Linked DNA regions of Homo sapiens. Changing the gene in region 1 together with any one later gene gives a genetic interaction. Each region holds a gene or a part of one and is shown in the gene's direction. Other genes may lie near its edges.

Region 1 (5,896 bases):
TAATCCAATCATTAATGCAGTGTAAGTTATATGTGAAATGAGTCTTTGGTATTTCATATAGGAATTATTTTTTTTTTCATTTAAAACAAATCCACATCTTTTGTAAAAGCCACTGTTTTGAACACATTTCCTTGAAAAATGTTGGTGGTTTTTGTGATTATTTATTTTTTTAGATTTCTTTTCTTTTGCACTACAATTTTTGGAATCCTTTTGGAAATACTGTGTGACTGCTGTGTTTTGCAGCATGAATTATAGTAAAATGGTCTTCAATTCTTAACAAATGGACTTCCCTGATGAGACCAAAATGGTGATTTAACAGTTTTTCTTGTGTCCCCTAAAAAGTGGCTCTGCTTCAGAAGTACTTGCCAGTTTTTAATTTATTTGTGACTTTTCACCCTACCCTGCTCCCATATACCTTCTACCATCAGCTGTCTTGTTTCATCATTTCTCTGAGATTCTGTGTGCAGTGAGCAATTTTTGTGTCAGAAATTCTTTGTCAGAACAAATATATGTAACAGGCTCAACTTACTGTAAAGCTACTTGTGTTCTCTTCATTTGTCTGTAAAAATTTCCCTAATTGATTATATAGTGTAAGAATAGTTGAAGACTAGTTGAAGACCTTTTGTGATTTCATTATCATGCCTATGCAGAAGAAAAATCATTGAGGAAAATTGTCATTAGCCAGTTTAACTGATTCAAACTCTGTTTATTTCATACTAAACTAGTGAATAAGTGAAATAAAGGAAACTCGTCATTAATCTAAAGACAGAGTTCAAAGGAATTGGGCCAAATATATTCTCAGTATTTGGAACTAATGTTTTTAAGGTTTTTAGGAAAATCAGGTCATTTAAGAAATTGTTTTGTAGTTTCTGGTTTATAGCAGTCTTCAAGTTTTCCATCTTCACTGTATGTTGCTGAAAGTGAGGATGAGGATACAGAGTTGATATTTTTAGAAACAGTAATTTTACTTTTAAGGAAATTGGCTAGCTCTTTGAGCTAGAGAGCTGTAGGAAGCTCAACATTTCTTTGTAGAGAACGTTGCTTTTTTTGGATTGTACAGGTATAAAAACATTGCTTTTGTTGAATTGTATAGGTGTAAAAAGGGAATAACTGTATGCAGGTTTGAAAAGGAAATGTGCTTTAGGCATGAGTCATAAGATGCCATTGTACTTGTAGGCATTTTATTTTCCTTTAGAAATGGACATCAGCTCTTCTCTTCTGACTGGTAACACATAGCCCCAAAGCATGAGATTATTTTTCATTGGGTTTTTATTGTTGTTTAGTTTTGGTTTGTTACGCCAGCCCAGTCTGTCTGCGGAACACTGACTCTGCTCTCTAATGAGAACAAAGTTAGAAATCTGCCGATAACCTAAAATAATTTAGAAATGAATTAAAAATGTGAAATCGGGTTAAAGTGATGATGATAAAATAGCATGCAAGAAACAAGCTCCTTCCATCAGACTTGGCTACTGTTTTCTTCTGGTACGATTTGGTTTGGAAGAGCCTCTTGTTTCCTTCTCTTTGGGGTATGTCTTCGTTTCTTAATATGTTTGTAACATTATTGAGATATAATTCACATACCTTACAATTCACTTATTTTAAGGGTACAATTTAGTGGTTTTTAGTGTATTCACAAAGTTGTGTAACCGTGACCACAGTCAATTTTAGAACATTTCGTTACCCCAAAAAGAAACCCTGTACCCTTGAGCAGTCACCTCTCATTTTCTCCCAGTGCCCACCCCATCCCCGAGCCCCTGGCAACCACTAATCTATTTCTCTCTCTGTAGATTTGCTTATTCTGGTCATTTCATATAAATGGAATTCTACAATATTCGGTCTTTTGGGACTGGCTTCCCAAATATGATTTTCTATATGGAGTGAGAAAATTCTTCTCATCTTGAGAACTCTTATTGCTGTGAAAGGGAGTGGTTGGTAAAATCAATAGATTTCAGGCAAGAGGGCCAGATACCTAACAGGTTTTTCTCCGTGAATCTTATGCTGAGTAGTTTTTCCTCATAACCAAGCATTTATGATATATTACTACTTATAATACTGTGGCTAGTCTCTAGAATGGATGTTGAAATCTTTGCCTCCTCAGTCGGGAAGAGTCCTGCTAAAAATCAGGCTAAAAATCAGGCCAAAAATCAGGCCAAATGACTTGGCAAATAATTGACAAAGTGGTTTTCACGTGTGTCTATCTTTGCTAGCAGCTTGTATACCTCAGGCCAGGTGAGCTCCCCAAATTTCTTTTTTCATTTACTCCAGTGAGTTTCTGCTGTCTTTTTCAAGTATGTACCATAGGACTTAAAGGTGATTTGGATGCGTTGTAACACTGCTAAATATGCTAAGTACAGAATTTTATCTACAGTACTGTGAGACAGTCAATTATTGCCTAGGGTAGTTCAAAAATATGATGTGAGCTAGTTAAGCCTTTGCTTGACTGATTTCAGTGATATTCAGAAGTGTGTACCAATCAAGGCTCTTTAAAATACGGAACGACTCACTTAATAACCAGGGAACCAGCCAAATACTGTGCAGCCGCAGAATATGCATATCAATGAGTTGGAGGTGATTATTCTCTGTAACTCCCTAATGATTGTTTTCTAAGCATTGTGGCTTCTCAGTGGCTTGACAGCATCTTCCTGGTTGTATGTGGCCTGTTTACATGATGTATTGAATAATGTTGTTTGTTGTGAGCATCAATGCCTGTAACACCAAACTAAACACGTGTTTTTGGGATATGTTTCCAATCTTTAAATGACCTTGCCCTGTCCAATAAATAAATGATTGTCTCACCCTGTTTTTGGTAGTGTTTTTTGGGCTTTTTTTTTTTGGACTTTTAATCTCATTTCTTCTGCTTTTCTGTCCCCAGAAAAATGTAAGAGCTAATTTTATGACTGTATTTTTCTACTGTGATGCTGTTTTACTGAATTCAATGGATAATTTAATTGTACATGTAAAATCTTACTGCAGTTTTATGTTTTTAATAGTCAAAATAGAATGTATAATCTTGATGATGTTTATAAATCATCAAATGCCCTTTGGGGTGTAAAAATGGGTTCTTGAGCAGCAGTGTCTAATGATTCCATCACAAATTTGTTATAAAGCCAAACTCCCATTGAAAGTGTCACTTTATACTTAATAGGAAATCGTTATGATTAAAGCATCAAGGAAGCAAATATAAAGTTTAATGAAAATCCAAGGGGAAGTTCTAAATTGCAAAACTTGGCACTTATCTACAGTATTTTGAAAAATAACACCACCGGTATTCAAACCTACCTAGGAATATCTCAAAATAACCTGTTAATTAAGTGTTCTTAGAAAGGGGAGTGGGGGCAAGAAAGATGATGTATGCACATGGCGAAAAGATCAGATGGTACAGAAAGGTATAAAAACTTGGTCCCTTCCCTCCTACCCTAATACTCCTCTCCAAAAGTAACCAGTTTCAAGTGTCTTGTACTCACAGGAAAACAATTTTTTATTTTTTATCAGCAAATTTGTACTTTAAAAATTTCACATTAATAGAATCAGACTATATATACTCTTCTGTACCTTGCTTTTTTTGCTACCTGTGTTTTATGAGATCTTTCTGTATCAGTATATATAAAAATACCTCATTATTTTTAGCGGCTGTGTGGTATTCTAATGTTTGAATGTGTTACAAATGTTCAAACACTGATAGGCTCTTTAGGTTGTTTCCAATATTAAATCACATTGTGGTGAATATACTTGTACATATAATGAGTTTTTATTCTACAGTGTACCTAGCAATACAATTGCTGGATCAGAGGGTATTTTTTATTTTCAGTTCAGTAGTTACTGCCAAATTGTCCTCTAGAAATCTTTGCCCAGTATGCTTCCACATATAATGTATGAGAATGATTATTTACCAAACCCATGCCAATACTGGGTACTAAACTTTTGAAGTCTGATCATGTGAAAGTGAATAAATGGTATCTTGCGTTTTAATGAAGTTCTAATGCATTTTAATGAAGGTCTGGTACATTTTAATGAAGGAGATGGAACACATTTTCATGTTTATTGATTACTGATATTTCCTGTGAAATGTGTAGTCATGTTCTGTTTTCTATTAGGTGGTATGTGTTTTATTGATTTGTATGAGCTTTTTGTAAGCTAAGAAAATTGGTCCATTGTCATGTTTAATAATATTTTCCTAAGTTTTATTTATGTAGTTAAACTTAGTCTTTACAGCTTCTGAGATTTTGCCTTGCTTAGAAAGGCCACCTTTGCATTTAAGAATAAATTTAATGTATTTTTCCAGTATTTTAAAGGTTTTTTTTTCAACTTTTAAATCTTTGATTCATTTGGAATTTGTCTAGGTAGTAAGAGTGAGGAGAGGATTCAACATTTTTCTCTCCAATAGCAATCTATTCTAACCCCATTTATTAACTTTTTCAACACTGATTGGAAAAACCATCATCCTCATTCATACATCAAATTTCCATATGTCTGGTTAGATATGCTTCTGGGTTCTGTAGTCTGTTGCAAAAAATACGAGTCTTTTAATTATTTTAAATTGTTATATATTTTTGTCTTGGGTATTGCTAGTCCATACCTCATTTTTAGGAATTTTTTCTAGTTACTGCATGTTTATTTTTTTCAGATAAGCTTTCATATCATTTTGTCCAAATCTAAAATTATATTTTCCCTGAAATTTAATTTTGAAAAATTTCAAATCTACAGAAAATGTGAAAGAAAATAGGATGGACACCAGTATACTTTTCATTTAGGTTCACCATTTTTAACATTTTACCACTGTTGCTTTTGCTCTCTCCAGATGTGCTTTTCCTCCCCTCCTGATTCATTCGAGCTAAGTTGCAAACTTCATCATCACACTTCAGGACATCACTTAATATGTCAGCATGCCTTTCCTGCAAGAGGGAGGAGATTCTCCCATTTAACCACAATTCCATTATCACAGGTAAAAAAATGGATCAACCACCCAAAGTTTCATATTCATATTTCCCCATGTATCCCCTAAATAGCTTTTATAGCTGTCCCCACCAAGGTTCACAAATTACATTATTAGTGTGTCTCTGTAGTCTCTTTTCAAGTCTGTCTACCTCTTTTTTAAGCTGGTATTTTCTCTAGACAAACTTTATTTTCTTAGAACTGTTTTAGATTTATGGAGAAAATGGGAAGATAGTATAGAGAGTTCCCACATACTCCATACTCAATTTCCTCTATTAACATGTTAGCATGAGGCATTTGACACAATGAGCCAATGTCAATACATTATTATTAGTAGTAGTAGTATTGGTATTACTGGAATGCAATGGCGTGATCTCGGCCCACTGCAACCTCTGCCTCCCAGGTTCAAGCGATTCTCCTGCCTCAGCCACCCGAGTAGCTGGGAGTACAGGCATGCACCACCACGCCTGGTTAATTTTGTATTTTTAGTAGAGACGGGGTTTCTCTATGTTGGTCAGGTTGGTCTCAAACTCCTGACCTCAGGTGATCCACCTGTCTCGGCTTCCCAAAGTGCTGGGATTACAGGCGTGAGCCAACGTGCCTGGCCTAATACATTATTATTAACTAAAGTCCATACTTTATTCAGATTTCCTTTTTTTTTTTTGAGACAGAGTCTCTCTCTGTCACCCAGGCTGGAGTGCAGTGGCGCGATCTCGGCTCACTGCAAGCTCTGCCTCCCGGGTTCATGCCATCCTCCTGCCTCAGCCTCCCGAGTAGCTGGGACTACAGGTGCCCACCACCATGCCCGGCTAATTTTTTGTATTTTTAGTAGAGACGAGGTTTCACGGTGTTAGCCAGGATGTTCTCGATCTCCTGACCTCGTGATCCGCCCGCCTCGGCCTCTCAAAGGGCTGGGATTATAGGCGTGAGCCACCGCGTCCAGCCCCTTTGGTTTTACCTAGTA
Region 2 (5,495 bases), on another chromosome or scaffold:
TTCATGTTTGGAAGATACTGTCTCTCCCCCTAATCTTTGAACTTCCTCTTGTCTACAATAGAAACTACGCAAAGCAATAAATACAGAAGATAAGAGAGAGGAAGTGAAAGCCTAAAGAGGTTAGTAGAAGCCAGAAAAGTGACAGAGAGAAGGGAAGAGGGTTAAGAATTTCAGTAGGAAGATGATGTTTCCTCATGTAACAAACCTTGATGATCTCCTGTCTCTTCTACCTCATCCATCTTGTTAACTCAGAAATAATGTGATTCTTCTAGAAACTCACCGTAACTCAGACATCACCTTTTGCCAAAACCAACATTAGGCTCACTCTAGTTTTTATAAGGGGAAATTATACTCTCTTAGAAAAGACATTATAAGGAATATTTCTTTAAAAAGAAGCAAAGAATATCTACTAAGAATCACTAGCTATACGAGGAAAAATTCTACTATGAAATACAGAGACCAAAGCAAACAAACATAAAAAAGCAACTCAGGAGTAAGTTCTCTAAATTGTGATGTGTGCAATCTTTAACATCCCCAGAGAGAGAAGAAAAAATGTTTGTGCCTTTAAAAGCAGAAAAGTCTTATAAAAAGTAACATTTGAAAATAAAGGGTGTTTTTGAAAATTAAAAATATAATAGCAATTTTCATAGATATAATCTAAAGTTGAAGAAATTTCCCAGAATATAATAAATAATATTGAACATAAATAATTGGAAATAGAAAAGATAAGAAAATTAAAGGACAATTACAGGATGTCCAACATCAAAAAGAAGGAGTTCCAGAAATGGTACATTGAAAGCAGAAAACAAAATGATCAGATAAATAGGGCAAGACTATTTCTAAGAAAAGGACACTTTTTATTCCAGATTAAATGGGCAGCACTGTGGAGAAGAGACTCCCTTCAATAAACAACCATGTAATTTTAGGACACCAGAGACAAAGACAATATCCAGAATCAAAATTGCATCATGCTTCTCAATAGTAGCCACAAAACTATAATTTATTAGAGCAAGGCCTCCAAAATTATCCTCAACCTTGAATTCTCTACCCAGCCAAACTATCAGTTAAGTTTAGAGGTAGGACAAAGTCAGTTTTAGATGTACACGTTCTTTAAAAATTCACCTATGCATGCTTTATTAGACAGCTGTTGGAAGATGTGCTGTACTAGAACAAAGAAGTCAACTCAGATAAAAGAAGATCTGGGATACAGAAAACAAGGACCCCAATACAAAAGCAAAGTGAAGAGAATCCTTGGAATGATACCAAAGGAAGATTCAAAGAGAACATACATGCATCAAGTCTAGACAGCAACTGCTGTCTAGATTTTCCAAAATTGAAAAAAAAAAATACCCACTTAATATGTAGAATGTATTAAAATAAGACTTATATTGATGGAGAAGAGAGTTTGATTGAATTAGTCATATGTATATAGAGCACTGAGAAAATGAAGAGAATTTTTATCTATTAGGTTTAAGGTTATAGGGAAGCTGTACCTGAAAAGACACTATAGTATACCACTTAGCTATGATTAGCACTTGCATTGTCATGTTTTAAACAGTAAATAGTTATCTAAAAAAAAGTCATGATATAACAATTCTGGAATGATAAGGGACCATGAAGGGGGTCTGTGTGTGTGTGTGTGTGTGTGTGTGTGTGTGTGTGTGTGTGTGTTAGAGAGAGAGAGAGATACGTGAAGGTATGGTGTAATGGGAAGTCCATAGGTAATGCCAAACCTGAAAAATCAAGAAGTAACAATATAACCAAAGCTATGTGGTTATAACATTTAAAATTATAAAATAACCAGCTAAAATAGTTAAATTGAAATGTATCACCTCTGGAGATCAAGACATAGAATAAACTAAAATATGCACATGTATAACTTTACTAAAATTAAAAATGGAATTAAAAACAAAGTAATAGCTATGGGACAAAATAGTTACAGATGCTATTCTCTTATAATAAAAGTTGCATATGTATTATCTAATGACCCATTTTAGAAATTATTAGGTTGTATAACTTGATATCGGCCCTTCATGTCATTTTCGAAACTTACAAAGTTGTCTCTTTGAAAAAAACATCAGTTTGGTTGATTTTGAATAGGACTTGGATAGTTAAAGGAATCACTGTTGAATGAAAATCTATGAAAAATATTTGTCAATATGGTGGTATACTCTTCAAGCTCCTCCAAGAAGCAAAATCTGTTTGTGAGTTGCTGAAACTTTACTATCTTCCTTTCTATTCCTGTCCATCACACTGCCACAGACAGCACTGTCTGGAGATGTGGAATCAAGACTGATAAAGGCCAGTAGGGAAAGCAACTAAGATTCTCCAGACCTGAACATATTGGAGGGAAAGATAGCTTATGAGGCCCTTGGATCTTTTTATTGTCCTCTTTATACTGGGAAGTTTGTGACCGTTTTTAAAGAGGGATGCCTCTTTAGCCTCCCCTATAACCTGGCCCTGTTCCAGTTCTGCAAAAACATGCCTTCTTTGGGTTCAGTTAGTGATACTGGTAAGAGTTGAACCTCTAATTGTAATGAGATCCCTTGAAGCTCAAAAGACCTTAAGACACGAAGTTATGAATTAATAACGAAAAAATCTTCATTATAGCATTTTGATCAGAGGAAGAATCACAGCCCCCTTCCTTTTTTTTTTTTTTTTTCTTTGATATAGGATCTTGTTCTATCACCCAGGCTGGAGTGCAGAGGCATAGTCATGGCTCTCTGCAGCCTTGATCTCCTGGGTTCAATTGATACTCTACCTCAGCCTCCTGAGTAGCTGGGACTACAGGCATGTGCCACCATGCACCACTAATTTTTCTATTATTTGCAGAGATGGGGTTTTGCCATGTTGTCCAAGCTAGTCTTGACTTCCTGGGCAAGTGATTCGCCCACCTTGGCCCTGCAAGGTCCTGGGATTATAGGCGTGAGCCATAGCACCCGGCTCACTTTCCCTTCTTATCACAGATTGAAGGACTACGTTGAAGGCTGGCCACTGCTCTGACCACTGCCTGCACCATAGAAGTGTTTTTTCCTACCTGACAACTTGATTATAATTTTCTCCAGTCTGCAGTGATTTTTAGGACAGCAGAGTTCAAGCATTTATTGCCCATATTAATGAAACCTATACTCTAACATCTAGCCGATACCTCTGCTAGAGAAAACTTTCTACCTATACCTAACCCCTGTCTCACCCTCCTGAAGTACACTCTCACCTGACTTCTACTTATCCTTCCATTTTCAGCTTGTCATTTTCTCTCAGAATCTGGGATAGATGCCCCATTATAGGCTTATCATTATAATTAAGCAGCTGATAACAAAGCAGTATGCTGATTGCCCATCTCTCTCTTTGGTCTATAAGACTTGTAGAGGCAGGAAAAAGCATCTATTTGTTTTTTCACTATTGGCCTTCTTGGACCGAATATAGTTCCTAGACCTGGCATCAGAGGGACTCAATAAATATTTGTTAACTTGAGTGGATTTGCTATTGTCTCTACTTCTTAAAATGTAGTCTTATATTCTCTATCACATTGTGACTGCATATGGATAAGAGGGTATGGATATAGACATCTTTCCTAAGTCTATACCATCTATATAGTACATTAGTTTCTATCTGAATGGCACAGAGTAATTATGGCAATTGCTAGTCTCCACCCCAAATGGGAATGTTAAAATCTGCAAAGTGCTTGGCTTTCTTAGACGTGAAGTTCTTGGAATCCATTAACAAATAAATGCATCTTCATTTTATAATATAGTAGGTCTAGAGATGATGAGACAACATCTAATATACTTGAGGATTGTATTAGATGAATGGCAAGTCATTTGGCACACTAAAATGCTCTTAATGTGATTTGTTTACAATCTTTCTGTTTTATTGCAGCCGGGGATCTGACAACAGACTGGCTCACCGGCGGCAGACAGTTCTCCGTGAGAAGGGGAGAAGGTTAGCTAATCGAGGACCAGCATACATGTTTAGTGATCGCTCCACAAGCCTATCTATAGAGGAGGAACGCTTTTTGGATGCAGCTGAATATGGTAACATCCCAGTGGTGCGGAAGATGTTAGAAGAATGCCACTCACTCAACGTTAACTGTGTGGATTACATGGGCCAGAATGCCCTACAGTTGGCAGTGGCCAATGAGCATCTGGAAATTACAGAACTTCTTCTCAAGAAAGAAAACCTCTCTCGAGTTGGGGATGCTTTGCTTCTAGCTATTAGTAAAGGTTATGTTCGGATTGTGGAAGCAATTCTCAGTCATCCGGCTTTTGCTGAAGGCAAGAGGTTAGCAACCAGCCCTAGCCAGTCTGAACTCCAGCAAGATGATTTTTATGCCTATGATGAAGATGGGACACGGTTCTCCCATGATGTGACTCCAATCATTCTGGCTGCCCACTGCCAGGAATATGAAATTGTGCATACCCTCCTGCGGAAGGGTGCTAGGATTGAACGGCCTCATGATTATTTCTGCAAGTGCAATGACTGCAACCAGAAACAGAAGCATGACTCGTTTAGCCACTCCAGATCTAGGATTAATGCCTATAAAGGCCTGGCAAGTCCGGCTTACCTGTCATTGTCTAGTGAAGATCCAGTCATGACGGCTTTAGAACTTAGCAATGAACTGGCAGTTCTGGCCAATATTGAGAAAGAGTTCAAGGTAGGTCACTAACAATAGAGACTTCACCCTCCACAAGCCAGAGTCAAGGTGTATTTACCAGCTTCCCCCATGTGCTCAGCACTGTGCTAGTTACTGTGGACACTAGGTCATTTTATAAGTTTATTCAACAAGCTCTTTATTATAATCATTGTAGCAAAAGTTGTGATCGCTACCATTTAGTGATGCTCTACTGTCTGCCAGACATTTTGCATTTATTATATCTAATCTTTATCCGTTCCCCTTGAGAAGCTATTATTAGTTCCTGTCTAGATGGGTAAATGAAGGCATAGAAAGTTTCGCTAATGCCCAATATCAACAAATGGGAAATAACACAGCTGGGTTCAGAATCCAGGTATACTGCACTCTGAAAAGCCCAGGCTTTTTCCTCCCACGAAACACTATTTCCATGTTCAGAGCACAGTGATAGATGCTGTTGAGGTCAGAAAGAAGAATAAGCTTAAGGAAGTCACAGTTGACTAGAGAGACAAATGCACACATGAATAAAAAATAAACAAAACTACCAGGTAGAGGTAAAAGCAACATACTGTAGAAGTTCAGAGAAAACAATATTTAATTCCTGTTAGGCTGCAGGGAAGTATGTGTAAGATGGCATTTCAGCTGTATATGGTGGAACAAGTAGGATTTTGGAAGGCAGAGAATGAGGGAAAAGATATTTTAGGCCAAGGTGTACCAGCAAAAACAAAACATGATAGATATGAAATAGTAGGAAATTAGAACTTTGACCAGTCAATCTCTTAATAAGAGGTATCTGGAGAGATAAATGGTGTCAGATGCTGCCATTAACCATAAGGGCTGTGCTCCACGTGGAGAGGATGAAAGC

The links.
Region 2: changes in MMGT1 (region 1) and TRPC6 together harm fitness less than expected from each alone (positive genetic interaction), as found in Homo sapiens cells (one large-scale study listed by BioGRID).

The regions. Positions count from the first base shown.
Region 1 is NC_000023.11:135,958,976-135,964,871, reverse strand, and holds the end of MMGT1 (ER membrane protein complex subunit 5), read left to right. Parts: 3' UTR 1-4,284; downstream 4,285-5,896. UniProt on the Homo sapiens protein: Part of the endoplasmic reticulum membrane protein complex (EMC) that enables the energy-independent insertion into endoplasmic reticulum membranes of newly synthesized membrane proteins.
Region 2 is NC_000011.10:101,503,183-101,508,677, reverse strand, and holds part of TRPC6 (short transient receptor potential channel 6), read left to right. Parts: intron 1-3,879; coding exon 3,880-4,654; intron 4,655-5,495. UniProt on the Homo sapiens protein: Forms a receptor-activated non-selective calcium permeant cation channel. Probably is operated by a phosphatidylinositol second messenger system activated by receptor tyrosine kinases or G-protein coupled receptors.